Linked DNA regions of Homo sapiens. Each later gene encodes a partner of the first gene's protein in a complex. Each region holds a gene or a part of one and is shown in the gene's direction. Other genes may lie near its edges.

Evidence for each region.
Region 2: AIM2 (region 1) and CASP8 share a complex: the UniProt entries of both Homo sapiens proteins name them as parts of the AIM2 PANoptosome complex.

Annotation. Positions count from the first base shown.
Region 1 is NC_000001.11:159,061,219-159,067,905, reverse strand, and holds the end of AIM2 (interferon-inducible protein AIM2), read left to right. Parts: intron 1-1,576; coding exon 1,577-1,996; intron 1,997-4,231; coding exon 4,232-4,420; intron 4,421-5,187; coding exon 5,188-5,214; 3' UTR 5,215-5,422; downstream 5,423-6,687. UniProt on the Homo sapiens protein: Sensor component of the AIM2 inflammasome, which mediates inflammasome activation in response to the presence of double-stranded DNA (dsDNA) in the cytosol, leading to subsequent pyroptosis.
Region 2 is NC_000002.12:201,263,536-201,271,487, forward strand, and holds part of CASP8 (caspase-8 isoform 2 precursor), read left to right. Parts: intron 1-2,925; coding exon of another isoform or gene 2,926-2,951; coding exon 2,952-3,256; intron 3,257-5,974; coding exon of another isoform or gene 5,975-6,070; intron 6,071-7,952. UniProt on the Homo sapiens protein: Thiol protease that plays a key role in programmed cell death by acting as a molecular switch for apoptosis, necroptosis and pyroptosis, and is required to prevent tissue damage during embryonic development and adulthood.

The DNA of each region.
Region 1 (6,687 bases):
TGGTGAGAATGATTACTTTAGTCCTGAGGGAGTGGCAGACAACGTTAGAAAGGCCCAGCACAGAATCCACCACACATGCAGTTTCATTTCCTATGAAGCAGGTATTACATTATTTTATACCTGTGTGAGCTCTAAAAACTGATGATATATACTTCATTCTCTTTGTCTAGAGGAACCATTTCCTCTGGGTTTGGCCCAGAAACTTCTGGATTTTTCAGGAAAACAAGGTTCAAGTATAAATGGTGTGATTCCCTCATCAGTAATGAAAATATGCATTTTTCAGTCTGGAAGACCCAAATAAAGATACATGGACCAAAGAGAAGGACTTCTGTAGTGGACCTCAGTGGAGCTGACCTTTCCCTGCATTGATCCAAATGCAGTCAGTTATGCTGCCCATCAGGGCCCCTTACTGGCCCAAGCTCCACTGCCCCAAGCTCCAGGTCACATCAGAGACACCCTTCAGAGACTCCTACGCTTGGCTTTTTATGCCTCTGTTTGTTTTGCCCTGTATTTCCCTTTGGTTCTAAATGGCAAGTGGCTTTTAAAAAGTAGTATTTTCTCCCAAAACAAACCAAAAAGAGGTGTCTTATCTCTGTTAATTCAGAAAAATAAAAAACACAGAGAAGAGAATAAAATTATCTATAATTGTATCGTCTAGGAAAAAAATACATTGATGTTGGTAAATATCTCTCTAGTGTGTTTGTGTGTGTGCTTTAACTGCTTATTTATCCAATAAGAAACAGATTGTTTATCTGTTTAGGACCTTTCCCTTTATTGAATCAGTTATAACAGTTTATCATATTTCTCTAAAGCATTTTTAATATTTGCACAGTAATCTTTTTGTGACTATACCTATTTTATTTAACCAAATCTATTTTTTAGGTATTTAAATTATTTCTTTTTTTATAATTTCAAATAATAAGATGTACTTTTTAAATATAAACCTTAGTGCATAATTCATTATTTAAGGGTAAATCCATAAATGTAGTATTAATTCTCCTTTTAAATTTCTCCTTTAACTCACTCATAAGATCTCTGAACTAGGTCTCCCCCTTAACTCACATTAAATGTAATCTGCATTTTGTTATGTACAATGCTCCCTAGGAATTTGGGGAGCCCTGTGCTGGTCACTGAGCTCCCTCACTTTTATACCAGAGTAAAATGAACATTTAGGACAGTATTGGATAGAGAAACAAGGACACATGCCCGAATGGAATTGATAGAAGATGGAATCAGATTTGTCAGATTTACCCCGAGGCTTAGCAGTATTTCAGAAATCTGATGAAGTCTTTATATATAGTACATGGCAAAGCAAGGATTTGGTTTCAGGGATCCTACCTCCAAAACGTGTTACACCGTCTTATCTGAATACAGGAGTCGAAATCTTCCTTCTGCACTCTCTGTTCTATCTGGATCGTTCTAGGCCTCAACTCTCTTCGTATCCCCTCTGTATCTCTTCCCTTGATTCCACCTATCTTCTGCTGGCTTTCTGAGGTTTAGCACTGTAGGTGAAGTAAGGTCCTTTCAATAGTACCTTTTTGACTCACAGCTGATATCTTTCTTCTCTTGTCTTCAGCCTGAACAGAAACAGATGGTGGCCCAGCAGGAATCTATCAGAGAAGGGTTTCAGAAGCGCTGTTTGCCAGTTATGGTACTGAAAGCAAAGAAGCCCTTCACGTTTGAGACCCAAGAAGGCAAGCAGGAGATGTTTCATGCTACAGTGGCTACAGAAAAGGAATTCTTCTTTGTAAAAGTTTTTAATACACTGCTGAAAGATAAATTCATTCCAAAGAGAATAATTATAATAGCAAGATATTATCGGCACAGTGGTTTCTTAGAGGTAAATAGCGCCTCACGTGTGTTAGATGCTGAATCTGACCAAAAGGTTAATGTCCCGCTGAACATTATCAGAAAAGCTGGTGAAACCCCGAAGATCAACACGCTTCAAACTCAGCCCCTTGGAACAATTGTGAATGGTTTGTTTGTAGTCCAGAAGGTAAGTTTTCATATCTAATTTCATATTGATTAGTAAGAATAACGTATTTCCCATCTGATCTTAAAGAAACTTTGGAAATGGTTTTAATGTCTTTCTATATAGACAAAATAAAAAAATACAAAGTTCTAAAGAGCTGCAGAGTAAACATGCCAAAATTCATACAAAAACTCAAAAATTGTTTTTATTGTCAAAAATGTCACGATCCTATTTCAACTTACCCCAGTAGCCTCTGAAAAAGGAATTAGTTCATTCACATAATTTTTATTTCTGCATTATTTTTGTACTTTGTACATATTATCTTTATTTTAAGTGACTATAGTTGTGATTATCTTTATTTTAAGTGACTATTGTTGTGAATGCAAAGTAAGTGTAGTTGAGTAATAAACCAGATTAATGACCTGAAAAACCAATACGCAAGGCAGGATTAAAGAACTGTGATTAAATGAAGAAAACAGAAGAAAGAGTTAGCCTGAGGAGACTTTTTTTTTAATTAAAAAGTAAACTTTAATGTCAAAAATGCAAACTGGGGGAAGACAGAAAAGATCACACACAAGGCTGTCACTTCACACTTGGAAGGTTGCACGGCGGCCGGGCAGAGGCGCTCCTCACTTCCCAGACAGGGCCGCGGGGCAGAGGCGCTCCTCCAGGATACTTATTAGAAGTGAGAAATAATAAAGTATTTATTATGATTCTGAGCCTCAGGGAACTAGCCTTGTGGGATGACTTTTTCTGGTCTAGGGCAGGACCTAAAGAACCATAGAGAGAGAACCTGCTGCCCCTGCATTCAGAGCCTCAGAATAACCTCTGCTGCCCTGGGTTAGTTTCAGAAGGAATTGATAGGAAGACTCTCCAGTCCTCCTGGAAAACTCAAGTGTAAAATGACCTTGGATAGGAAAGTCATGTTCTTTATCCCAGTTTTCAGCTTTCAATCTGGCCAGCTATCCACTCATATATACTGATTTAGTCCATAAAATTAAACCTAAAATACGATCAATCTCCTAAATAACTGACCAACCTCCTGTTCCCTTTGGATCTAGACTTGATTGTGAATTGTTTCTTGTCTTTGATTACTTACTAGACTCTTGGCTGGGTCTTGCATCATTACCTCATGTCTCTCCTGGACTTGTTTTAAATAGCTCTCTTCAGGCTGGGCGCGGCAGCTCATGCCTGTAATCCTAGCACTTTGGGAGGCCAAGGCGCATGGATCACCTGAGTTGAGGAGTTCCAGATCATCCTGGCCAACATGGCAAAACCTGTCTCTAGTAAAAATACAAAAATTAGCCGGGTGTATTGGCGGACACCTATAATCCCAGCTACTCGGGAGGCTGAGGCAAGAGAATCGCTTGAACCCAGGGCGTTGGAGGTTGCAGTGAGCCAAGATTGCGCCATCGCACTCCAGCCTGGGTGAAAGAGCGAAACTCCATTTCAAAAAATAAACAAATAGAATAAATAGCTCTCTTCCAACCCAGGGTCTTCTTTTTTCCCTTGACTAATCTGGCTGCTGGCCCTGGAGAAGCTCCATCTTCTCTATCCAGCAGTTGTTGCTTCTATGGGCCACCCTGGCCTCCTCCTAAAGGAAGGGAATTTAGGACTGGAAAGATAGGCATAGGAGACAACATGTTCTAAGTAAGACACGTCTGCCTCCTCTGTGTGAACTTGCTAACATCTATTAGATATATACCTGCTAGTTTCAAAGCAGAAACATTTTTTCAAGTTGTCCCTTGAACAATGTAGGGATTAGGGCTTCTGACCCTGAGCAGTTGATAATCTGCATATAATTTTTGACTCCCCAAAAACTTAACTGCTTAATAGCCTACTCTTGATCAGAAGACTTACGGACAACATAAGCAGTCACTTAACACATATTTTTGTGTTATACATATTATATACTATATTCTTAAAAAGTAAGCTAGAGAAAAATGTTATTAATAAAATTATAAAAAAGAAAATATACTAACTATTCATTAAGTGGAAGTAGATCATCATAAAGTTCTTCATCCTCATTGTCTTGATGTTAAGTAGACTGAGGAGGAAGAGGAGGGTTGGTCTTGCCATCTTGGGGTGGCAGAGACAGAGGAAAATTCCCATATAAATGGACCTGCACAGGTAAAATCTGTGTTGTTCAAGAATCAACTGATTTCTTTTTAGAGCCTTCTTCTGGCATGTCTGATGTGTGACTGATGCGGCATTCATTAATCCGATTATCAGAGGCTGGGTGTTGATTTTCTTTTATAGGTAACAGAAAAGAAGAAAAACATATTATTTGACCTAAGTGACAACACTGGGAAAATGGAAGTACTGGGGGTTAGAAACGAGGACACAATGAAATGTAAGGAAGGAGATAAGGTTCGACTTACATTCTTCACACTGTCAAAAAATGGAGAAAAACTACAGCTGACATCTGGAGTTCATAGCACCATAAAGGTGGGAACTGCATGGAACAAAGTCAACTCTCCAAGGGGGTGATATTTTTTGTTTTCTATCAGAAAGCCGGACTGGAGCCATTGAACAGGATATAGAGTGGAAGACATTGATATTTAGTACACGTTCATCTCACAGAACTGAGGAACCTCCCTCTTAGGAAACATGTATTCTAGATACACAGTTAAGAGAACATGGGCTTTTCAAGGCAGAGGCGCATATTGTTGTGCCCACAGAGCCCAAAAAAGAGCTCCTTATTTATACTACAAGTCTAAAGCAGAAAGCTTGCCCAGAGTCGGAAAAGTCATTCTGACTAATGTCTTTGAAAGTAGACAGACAATAAATACTTTGAGGACACATTTCCCTAGCCAGTCCCACCACGTCTGCACCTACCATAGTCCAGTGCAGTTAAGTCCATGTAAACCCCTACTCTTGACCTTCCACCACACCCTCCTACCCGTGTCCTGCCACTACTTGGTGCTCTTCCCCAGGTCTCAGTGTTGGTTGCACTGCCTGCTATCTCTGTAAGAGTGGAGGCCAAGATTTGAGAAATATGCGTATGTGACCTTGCTAAGTGGGAGTGTATTTCTCAGGTCAGATATTCACTTCAGGAGTATGATCCAAGGCAGACCAATGTATTAGAAGGGTGGGAACAAAATAATTTTATGAGAAGATGATACATACACTTCAGAAGGCCATAGTGACTGCAAACAGTGGAGGGGCCACTCATCGACTGCATCTCAGACTGCATGTTTTTTTTCTCCATCCAGGTTATTAAGGCCAAAAAAAAAACATAGAGAAGTAAAAAGGACCAATTCAAGCCAACTGGTCTAAGCAGCATTTAATTGAAGAATATGTGATACAGCCTCTTCAATCAGATTGTAAGTTACCTGAAAGCTGCAGTTCACAGGCTCCTCTCTCCACCAAATTAGGATAGAATAATTGCTGGATAAACAAATTCAGAATATCAACAGATGATCACAATAAACATCTGTTTCTCATTCATTACAGTCCCACTATCTCCTTTAGTTTGTCAATCCCTTGTCTCAAGCGAAAATACTTTATCAATGTATTATATGATGTTTATACAAATTTAAAAGTAAACTATATGACAACAATTGCACAAAATACAAGAGGGAAGAATTAGGAGTACACTGTTAGAAGATCCTGTACAACATGTGAAGCAGCGCAGTATTATTTGAAAGTAGATACTGAATAATTAAAGATGTATATTTTGTCCCATAGGGCAATGATTTAGAAATATTTTAAAAGGTATAGAAATAATAACACAATTTTGTGTTATTGGAGAAAGAATAAGCATAAAGCCCAATGGAAAACTAGAGAGCCAAAACTAGGCTTGCACATTTACAGTCTATTGATTTCTACAAAAGTACAACACAGTTCAGTGGAGAAAAGACTAAAAAAAAAGCTACAACAACAATTAGATATCCATACTTAAAAAAATGAATCTGAGCCATTCCTCACTCTTTATACAAAAATAAACTCCAAACAGATCATTGGCTTTTCATAAACAGCTAAAACCATAAAACTTCTACAAGAAAACATGGGAGAAAATCTGTGTGATCTTGGTGTAGGCAAAGATTAAAGATTTAGATATCACACCAAAAGCACAATCTACATAACATAAATGCTTAATAATTTGAACTTCATCAAAATGAAGAACTTCTGTTCTTCAAAAGGTACCATTAAGAGCATTGAAAGGCAAACCATAGATTGGGGCTTAATATTTGTTAGTCACACAGCTGCTGAAGACCCTGTATCCAGGCCAGGCACGGTGGCTCACACCTGTAATCCCAGCACTTTGGGAGGCCCTGGCGGGTGGATCACCTGAGGTCAGGAGTTTGAGACCAGCCTGGCCAACATGGTGAAACCCCATCTCTACTAAAAAAAAAAAAAAAAAAAAAAAAAATAGCCGGGCACGGTGGTGGGCACCTGTAATCCCAGCTACTCGGGAGGCTGAGGCAGGAGAATCACTTGAACCCAGGAGGCGGAGTTTGCAGTGAGCTGAGATTGCGCCATTGCACTCCAGCCTGGGTGATAGAGTAAGACTCTGTCTCAAAAAACAAAAAGATCCTGTATCCAGAATTTATAAAGAACACTCAAAATTCAATAATTGCAGAACAACCAATTAAATGTTTAAAATGGGCAAAAAGATGATACATGGATGTCAAATAAGCACATAAAAATACACTCAACATAATTCATCTTTAAGGAAATGGAAACTAAAACTACAGTGAGATGCCATTATA
Region 2 (7,952 bases), on another chromosome or scaffold:
GGGCATTTATATTTGGATGGTGGAATTATACATAATTTTAATTTTCCTTTTTATCTTTTCTGTATTGTCTAAAATGAATACACTAAGCATTGTTATCCTCAGAAAAAAATAATTGAGGGATGGGGGAAAGGAAGTCCTGCTTTCATTTGATTCTTTGGTTGGTTTTATTCTGTAAGATGAGACTTTAACAGAGGTTAGAATGCATTAAAAATTGTAAAGACAGTTGACCTAATGGCACTAAACAGGGTTAGATCTAGTTTAGATCTTTTCCAGCATGTGAATAAGAATGGATCTTTAAATAAAGATTTTAACTAGGTATATGTTTTAGAATAAGTCATACATGTACATGGTAAAAATTCAAACAGTACAAACTGTGCAGCAAGGTATGGGAAATAAAGCAGCTCTCACTGTCACCTCCACCCATCAGCCTTCTCACACTGCACGCCCACATCTGTGTGTAATTCTGCTTTTCTTTAACATTACTGAAGGAACTTCCTGTGCATTTTTTGTCAGAGCTCTTCTGTGAATACACAAAATATGTACTGATCAATACATTATGTAGATCACGCAGGCTCAACCACATTGATCTTCCTATTCTTTCTAGTAGCCAAATAGAGTTCCCTGGAATATGATTAATAGCTTGCCTAAATCTTCTAATGCTGATAAACAGTTGTTTCTGCTCTTTCGTTATTTCAAGGAATGCTACCATGAATAGCCTTATATATGGTTTTGAGTATACTTGTTTAAGTGAATGTAGGAAAAACTCTTGGAAGTTAAATTGTGGGCCAGTTTATGTGAATTTTATATTTTGACAGAGATGGCTAAATTACCCACCTGTTTTTTTGTTTTGTTTTGGTTTTGGTTTTGCTTTTTTTTTTTAAGAGTTGGGGTCTTGCTACCTGGGGTCTTGCCACCTGGGGTCTTGCCCAGGGTAGACCTGAACTCCTGGGCCACGTTGGTTTATTTTACTGCATTCCCAGGGCCTAGAGCAACGATTGACACGTGCTAGCAGTATCTATTGGAAATTCTGGCCAACTTGCAATAGACCTGATTATTTCTACACTGAACATGTCTAAGATAGCTATTACTATTCATTCAGGAAAGCCCAGACAATTATCATGCCAGCAGCCTGAGACAGTAGCCAGTAATAGCCTGGTGTGGTAGTTTGCTCCTGTAGTCTCAGCTACTCAGCAGGCTGAGGTGGGAGGATGGCTCTAGCCTGGGAGGTGGAGGTTGCAATGAGCCAAGATTGCGCCCTGCACTCCAGCCTGGGTGACAGAGTGAGACCCTGTCTCAAAAATAAAAATAAGAATAAAAAATAAACCAGCAAAAGTTTCTGCCCTCACAGAGCTTCCATTCTAGTGAGAGGGTAGTTTGTCATCAGGAGGGTGACGCCGGTAGGGCTGGGGGCCAGCTCCCTGCAGGGAACAAACATGATCGCAGTGGGGTGGGAGTAGGGGATGAGTCCCCAGAGCCTCTGTGGTTTCCATTTCCACACAAAAAAACCACTGCTGCTGTAATCAGGAGGGGGAAAAGATTTTTAAAAATTTTCTTTCAGGGAATGGAAGGAAAGGATATTTTTGAAAGTAAGACTTTGAAAACTAAAAGTTTTGGGTCACTTAAAAACTCAAAATCTTTAGGTCACTTTAAAAATATTTAATCTTGGAGCTGGAGGCCATTATTCTAGGTAATTAGCTGGGTGTGGTGGTGTGTCCCTGTAATCCCAACTACTAGGAGGCCGAGGCAGGAGGATTGCTTGAACCTGGGAGGCGGAGGTTGCAGTGAGCCGAGATCGCGACACTGCACTCCAGCTTGGGTGACAGAGCAAGACTGGGTCTCAAAAGAAAAAAAAAAAACGAAAACTAAATACCGTATGTTCTCACTTAAAAGTGGGAGCTAAGCTATGAGGATGCAAAGACATACAGAGGGATATAATGGACTTTGGGGATTGATGGTGGGGTTGAATGGGAGGTTGGTCCTAATAGGTCCTAGTACGTCCCCTACTTCTAAGTCTTCCAGTCTGTCCTTTGCACTTTGAATGTTAATTCCAAGTTGGATAATGTCATTCTCATTTTTACAGTCCTTTCTTAGCTCCTCATCACCTCCAGGACAAAGCCTAAACCCCTCGCCCCATGGTAATGCGGCCCCTTTGTGACATGGTACCTGGCTAGAGCTTCATCCCTTTGTCCCATCACTCTCCATCCCAGACACTTTGTAGTTACTTTATTGAGCTCCTTGTGCCTGCCTGAATGGACTTGAAAGTTCTTACCTCCATCTTTTACATTAATTGTTTCCTGTAAGAATTGTGCTTTCTCGCATTCTCCCCAAAATCCCTTCCCCATAGGAAGCCCTTCTCCCAGGCTAAGTTAAGGTTTCTTCCTCTACATCCCTACCACACTCTGGTCACAACCCTCTAACCATTGGCTTGTTTTTTTTGTTTTTTGTGTTTTTTTTTTTTTTGTGAGACGGAGTCTTGCCCTGTCACCCAGGCTGGAGTGCAGTGGTGCAATCTCCGCTCACTGCAACCTCCACCTCCTGGGTTCAAGCGATTCTCCTGCCCCAGCCTCCTGAGTAGCTGGGATTACAGGCACGTGCCTCCACACCTGGCTAATTTTTGCACTTTTAGTAGAGACGGGGTTTCACCATGTTAGTCAGGCTGGTCTCAAACTCCTGACCTCGTGATCCGCCTGCCTTGGCCTCCCAAAGTGTTGGGATTAGAGGCGTGAGCCACCGCGCCCAGCCCATTGGCTTGTTTGTATGTCTACCTTCCTAAACAGTAAGAGGGAACTTGTCTGGTGTTCTTTTTTTCTCTCCTGTGCTGACAGCACAATGACCAGTACCTAGTAGTTGCAGTAGCCTTTGATGAACAAGCCAGCAAATGGTACTTTTCTTCCTTATCTGAACATACCATTTATTTTGACTTAGATTATATTCTCCTGCCTTTTAAAAAGATGGACTTCAGCAGAAATCTTTATGATATTGGGGAACAACTGGACAGTGAAGATCTGGCCTCCCTCAAGTTCCTGAGCCTGGACTACATTCCGCAAAGGAAGCAAGAACCCATCAAGGATGCCTTGATGTTATTCCAGAGACTCCAGGAAAAGAGAATGTTGGAGGAAAGCAATCTGTCCTTCCTGAAGGAGCTGCTCTTCCGAATTAATAGACTGGATTTGCTGATTACCTACCTAAACACTAGAAAGGAGGAGATGGAAAGGGAACTTCAGACACCAGGCAGGGCTCAAATTTCTGCCTACAGGTGGGTGGAAACTCCCATTGTGGGACTGGGAGGTGTGGGTTGAATGGACAGCCTCTGAGCTGATTGGGGCTTTTTTTTGTGGTACCCTGCCTAGTGCCTGGGAACCCAGCAGTGCCACAATTCTAAGCTTCTACAGAAAGACAGTAGTGCCTTGGGTGGTCCTGCTAAAGGCTGTAAAACTTAGCTTCTCCCCACCCTAGAGAGAGTGGGTAAACAAAGGCGTGAGAGAGAAACCACATTCAGTATCACTTGGGAGGCTTTGGGAAGATGTCCCACCGGAGCCAGATTAAGAAATTTAGGGGCCTTATATATAATTCTATAGAAATGCTAAGACCATAAAATAAAAATTTATTTTTCAAAGTGAAACATTACTTAGAGGTATGCTGAAGTTATAATAGAGTTTTTCTAAGTGTTCTCATTTTTTTCCTCTCTTATCTTGATGCCTCTCGATATCCAGATTGTGTGCTTACTTTGCCCATCCATTGAGTAAAGCATCATGGCTTCCCACCCTGAAATCCCCCTCCCACCTGCTTGCGGATGGCTATGAAAATTTTCAATGAGATTTAAGGGTTTTCTGCCACACTTAAAGACTCGAATGACTAAGTTCTTTACGGAGCTGTAAGCCGCTGGCCTGGCACATACAGCTAGGCAGTCTCCACCGAGGCTGCCCAGTTCCTGTGAGCCCGGCTGTATGACAGTTCTAAGCTTCTATAGGAAGACAGTGGCACGTTGGGTCATCCTGCCAAAGGCTGTAAAACTCAGCTTCTCCCCACCCTAGGGAGAGTGGGTAACCAAAGGTGTGAGAGAGAAACCCCATTCAGTTACAACTTCATGATGCTGTGACAAGACTTTAAAAACAGAAACACATTGTCACTTTCTCTCTTTCAACATCTCCTATTATCGGACACTACTTAAAGCAATTTTAGCTTTGCTTTCAGGAAACTTCTACTGAAGTCTTCGTTCTGGGCCCATTTCATTGTCTCTGTTTGCTTGTTGATAACTATGGCATGTGAGATGGAAAGGGTTCACAACCAGGGCTGACAGCTGCTGTCCTCTGATGGCTCAGCCCATGAATGCTCTGGTCTTTCTATTCTCAGAGACTATTTTTTGTTTTGAGGCTTGACTATTTTTTGTTTTGTTTTGTTTTGTTTTTGAGACGGAGTCTCGCTTCATCACCCAGGCTAGAGTGCAGTGGCATGATCTCGGCTCACTGCAACATCTACCTCCAGGGTTCAAGTGATTCTTCTGCCTCAGCCTCCTGAGTAGCTGGGATTACAGGTGTGTGCCACCATGCCCAGCTAATTTTGTATTTTTAGTAGGACGGAGTTCCACCATGTTGGCCAGGCTGGTCTCGAACTCCTGACCTTAAGTTATCCACCAGCCTTGACCTCTCAAAGTGCTGGGATTATAGGTGTGAGCCACCATGCCCAGCCAAGGCTTGACCATTTTGATTTTAAGTGAAAAAAGAGATATTCTGGGCCGGGTGAGGTGGCTCACGCCTGTAATCCCAGCACTTTGGGATGCTGAGGAGAGCTGATCACCTGAGGTCAGGAGTTCAAGACTAGCCTGGCCAACATGGTGAAACCTCATCTCTACTAAAAATACAAAAATTAGCTGGGTGTGGCGGCTCACGCCTGTAATCCCAGCTACTTGGGAGGCTGAGGCAGGAGAATTGCTTGAACCCAGGAGGTGGAGGTTGCAGTAAGCTGAGATTATGCCATTGCACTCCAGCCTGGGCAACAAGAGTGAAACTCTGTCTCAAAAAAAAAAAGAAAGAGATATTCTGGGTATATAAGTTTCCTAGGGCTGCTGTAACAAAGTAACACAAACTAGCAGGTTTAAAACAGTTTTTAAAATGTGTTTTCACAGTTCTGGAGGCCTGAGTCAGAAGTCAAGATGCCAACAGTGTTGGTTCCCTTTTAAGAGGCTCCGAGGAATAATCTTTTTCATGCCTTTCCCTGCTTCGGGTGGGTGGAGGAATCCTCAGTGCTCCTTGTCTTGTAGATGAGGCACAGCAGTCTCTGCCTATGTTCCCTTCTCTGTGTCTAAATCTCCCTCTTATGAGACAGTCACTGGATTAGGAATTAGGGCCCACCTAATCCAGTATGGCCTCATCTTTGTGTGTGTGTGTGTGTGTGTGTGTGTGTGTGTGTGTGTGTGTGTGTGAGACAGTGTCTCACTACATCGCCCAAGCTGGAGTGCAGTGGCATGATCTCGGCTCAGTGCAACCTCCACCTCCTGGGTTCAAGCAATCCTCCCACCTCAGCCTCCCAAGTAGCTGGGACTACAGGCACCCGCCACCATGTCTGGCTAATTTTTGTATTTTTTTGTAGAGATGGAGTTTCAAAATGTTGCCCAGGCTAGTCTTGAACTCCTGGGCTCATGCAATCTGCCCACCTCAGCCTCCCAAGTTCTGGGATTACGGGCATGAGCCACTGCGCCTGGCCAGCATGACCTCATCTTAATGAGATTTTATCTGCAAACGTCCTGGGTCCACATAAGGTCGCATTCTCATATTCCAGATAGACATGAATTTTGGGGAAGAGGGGAGAACACTATTCAACCAGTACACTAGATAGCTTTGGTTTACTAGCATTGTGAAGTCTTTATAAGGCACTTATTCATTAAGGCGCCAGTTAGTCCTAAAAACCCACAGCCCCAGAACAAGGAAAGCCGAGGGGGGTCTCATCTTGTGCCCACCATCTTGGTCCTTTGAAGGTTCCACTTCTGCCGCATGAGCTGGGCTGAAGCAAACAGCCAGTGCCAGACACAGTCTGTACCTTTCTGGCGGAGGGTCGATCATCTATTAATAAGGCAGGATCTCTCTTAAAATCTTTAATGTATTGGCTTAGAGATAAAAGGGTCCGGGCAATCCTGACTTACTGCTTGTTCATTATCATTGAATACTAGCCAGAAGCTAATAAATATGCTAGGGTGACCACTTACCATTATAAGAAAACACTAGACATTTTATTTTCCAGTTATAATTGCTACCTATAAAATAAAGATCTTATAAACTATTCAGGTTCATTACTAAATGGTGATGGTACAAGAAAGCCTATAGGCTTCAATAATGAGGAAAGCAAAAGGGTAAATACCTTGTAATAAAGGTGAAAGAGTCAGAGTAGCTTTGGATTAGATCCAATTTTGGCCAAACTGAAAGCTTTAGATAAACACTTCTAGGGTAGAGAGTCCATGAGAAGGGGGATAAGGCAGATGGTAATACTGAGTAATTTCTGTTTCTACGCCATTTTTATTTTCAGAATTTTACTTTTCTAATTAAATTTTAAAGTCAACGTGTTTTTGTATTAAAATTATTTTCCTTTACACCATAGTATTGAAAGGTTTGCTGACTTCTAAAACATTCCTTTGTTCACCTATTCGACAAGCATATTCCAAGAGCCTAAATGTGCCAATCACATAAATGTGATAGGCATAGATTAGGAAATAGTAACACCTATCACTCATTGAGCACTTAGTGTGTTGCCAAAGACTGATTTAAGTACTTCACATAAACTTATTTGTGTAACCCTCGAAACCTTCCTATGATGTGGTTACGGATAATTATCTTCAGTCTATGGACGAGGAAAAAATGTGTAACATGTCTAAAGTTAACACTGCTCAAAGATAGTGGAACCAAGGCTCCAACACCAATAGCCTGGGTCCGCTGAGCTCAATCATTGCACCTCACAACCCTCTGGGTTTATGAAAATAAAAAGGGTACGGACCTGGCCACTAGGGGACTTGAACAGTTTCTAAACAGACAATTATTTTCTGTTTTTATTTTTAGTGTGGTGGCATGATCACAGCTCACTGCAGCCTCAACCTTCTGGGCTCAAGTGATCCTCTCACCTCAGCTTCTGGAGTAGCTGGGACCACAGGTGCATGCCACCACACCCGGCTAATTTTTAAATGTTTTTGGTAGAGATGGGGTCTTGCTATGTTGCCCAGGCTGGTCTCAAACCCCTGGGCTCAAGTGATCCTCCTTCTGCCTTGGCCTCCTAATGCGCTGGAATTAGAGGCATGAACCACTGCACCAGGCCAACAGACAATTATGTGTGTTATCGTTTTGGGGTTACTAAGTCATAGTGGAGTGAATGCAGCTTTGAGGATGCTCAGGCAATGCTTGAGCTGATTGTTCATGGATGGGCCTCTGCAGATAGACAAGGGGATGGGGTGTAGCGGCACCACAGAAAGGGGTGAGGGCAGGGCAGCTGGGTGTGTTTGGCTTCAGGTCCTTTCGTGTTTGCGGTCTGGTCTGTGATAGGGATGTATTCGGAGACTTTGTATTCCAGAACCGAATGCTTGGCCGTCTTACTGAAGATAATGACTGGGAGAATACTGACCAGTTTTGATTAGGGAAGTCATGAGCCAATGTGCATTTTGAAAAGCATAATTTCCAAAAGGCAAAGCATTTTGCTATTGCAACAAAATCTCCATTTTACAGAAAAAAAAAAAGGAAAACAAGATTTACTCAACTGAAATAAACTGAAAGAAAAGTTGATAGAACTTTAAATTGTTAAGGGTGGGAAAGTCGGGGAGGAGCCAGTAGACTTCTGTGTCACCACACCAGCCTCTTTCCAAGGGCTCAACTCATAAACCATGCCATTAACTGGCTTTATGTTGAAGGGAGGCCTTTGGAATCAAGCCCACTGTGACTCCATATATCAAATGGGAAATTATTTGGGAAAAGATT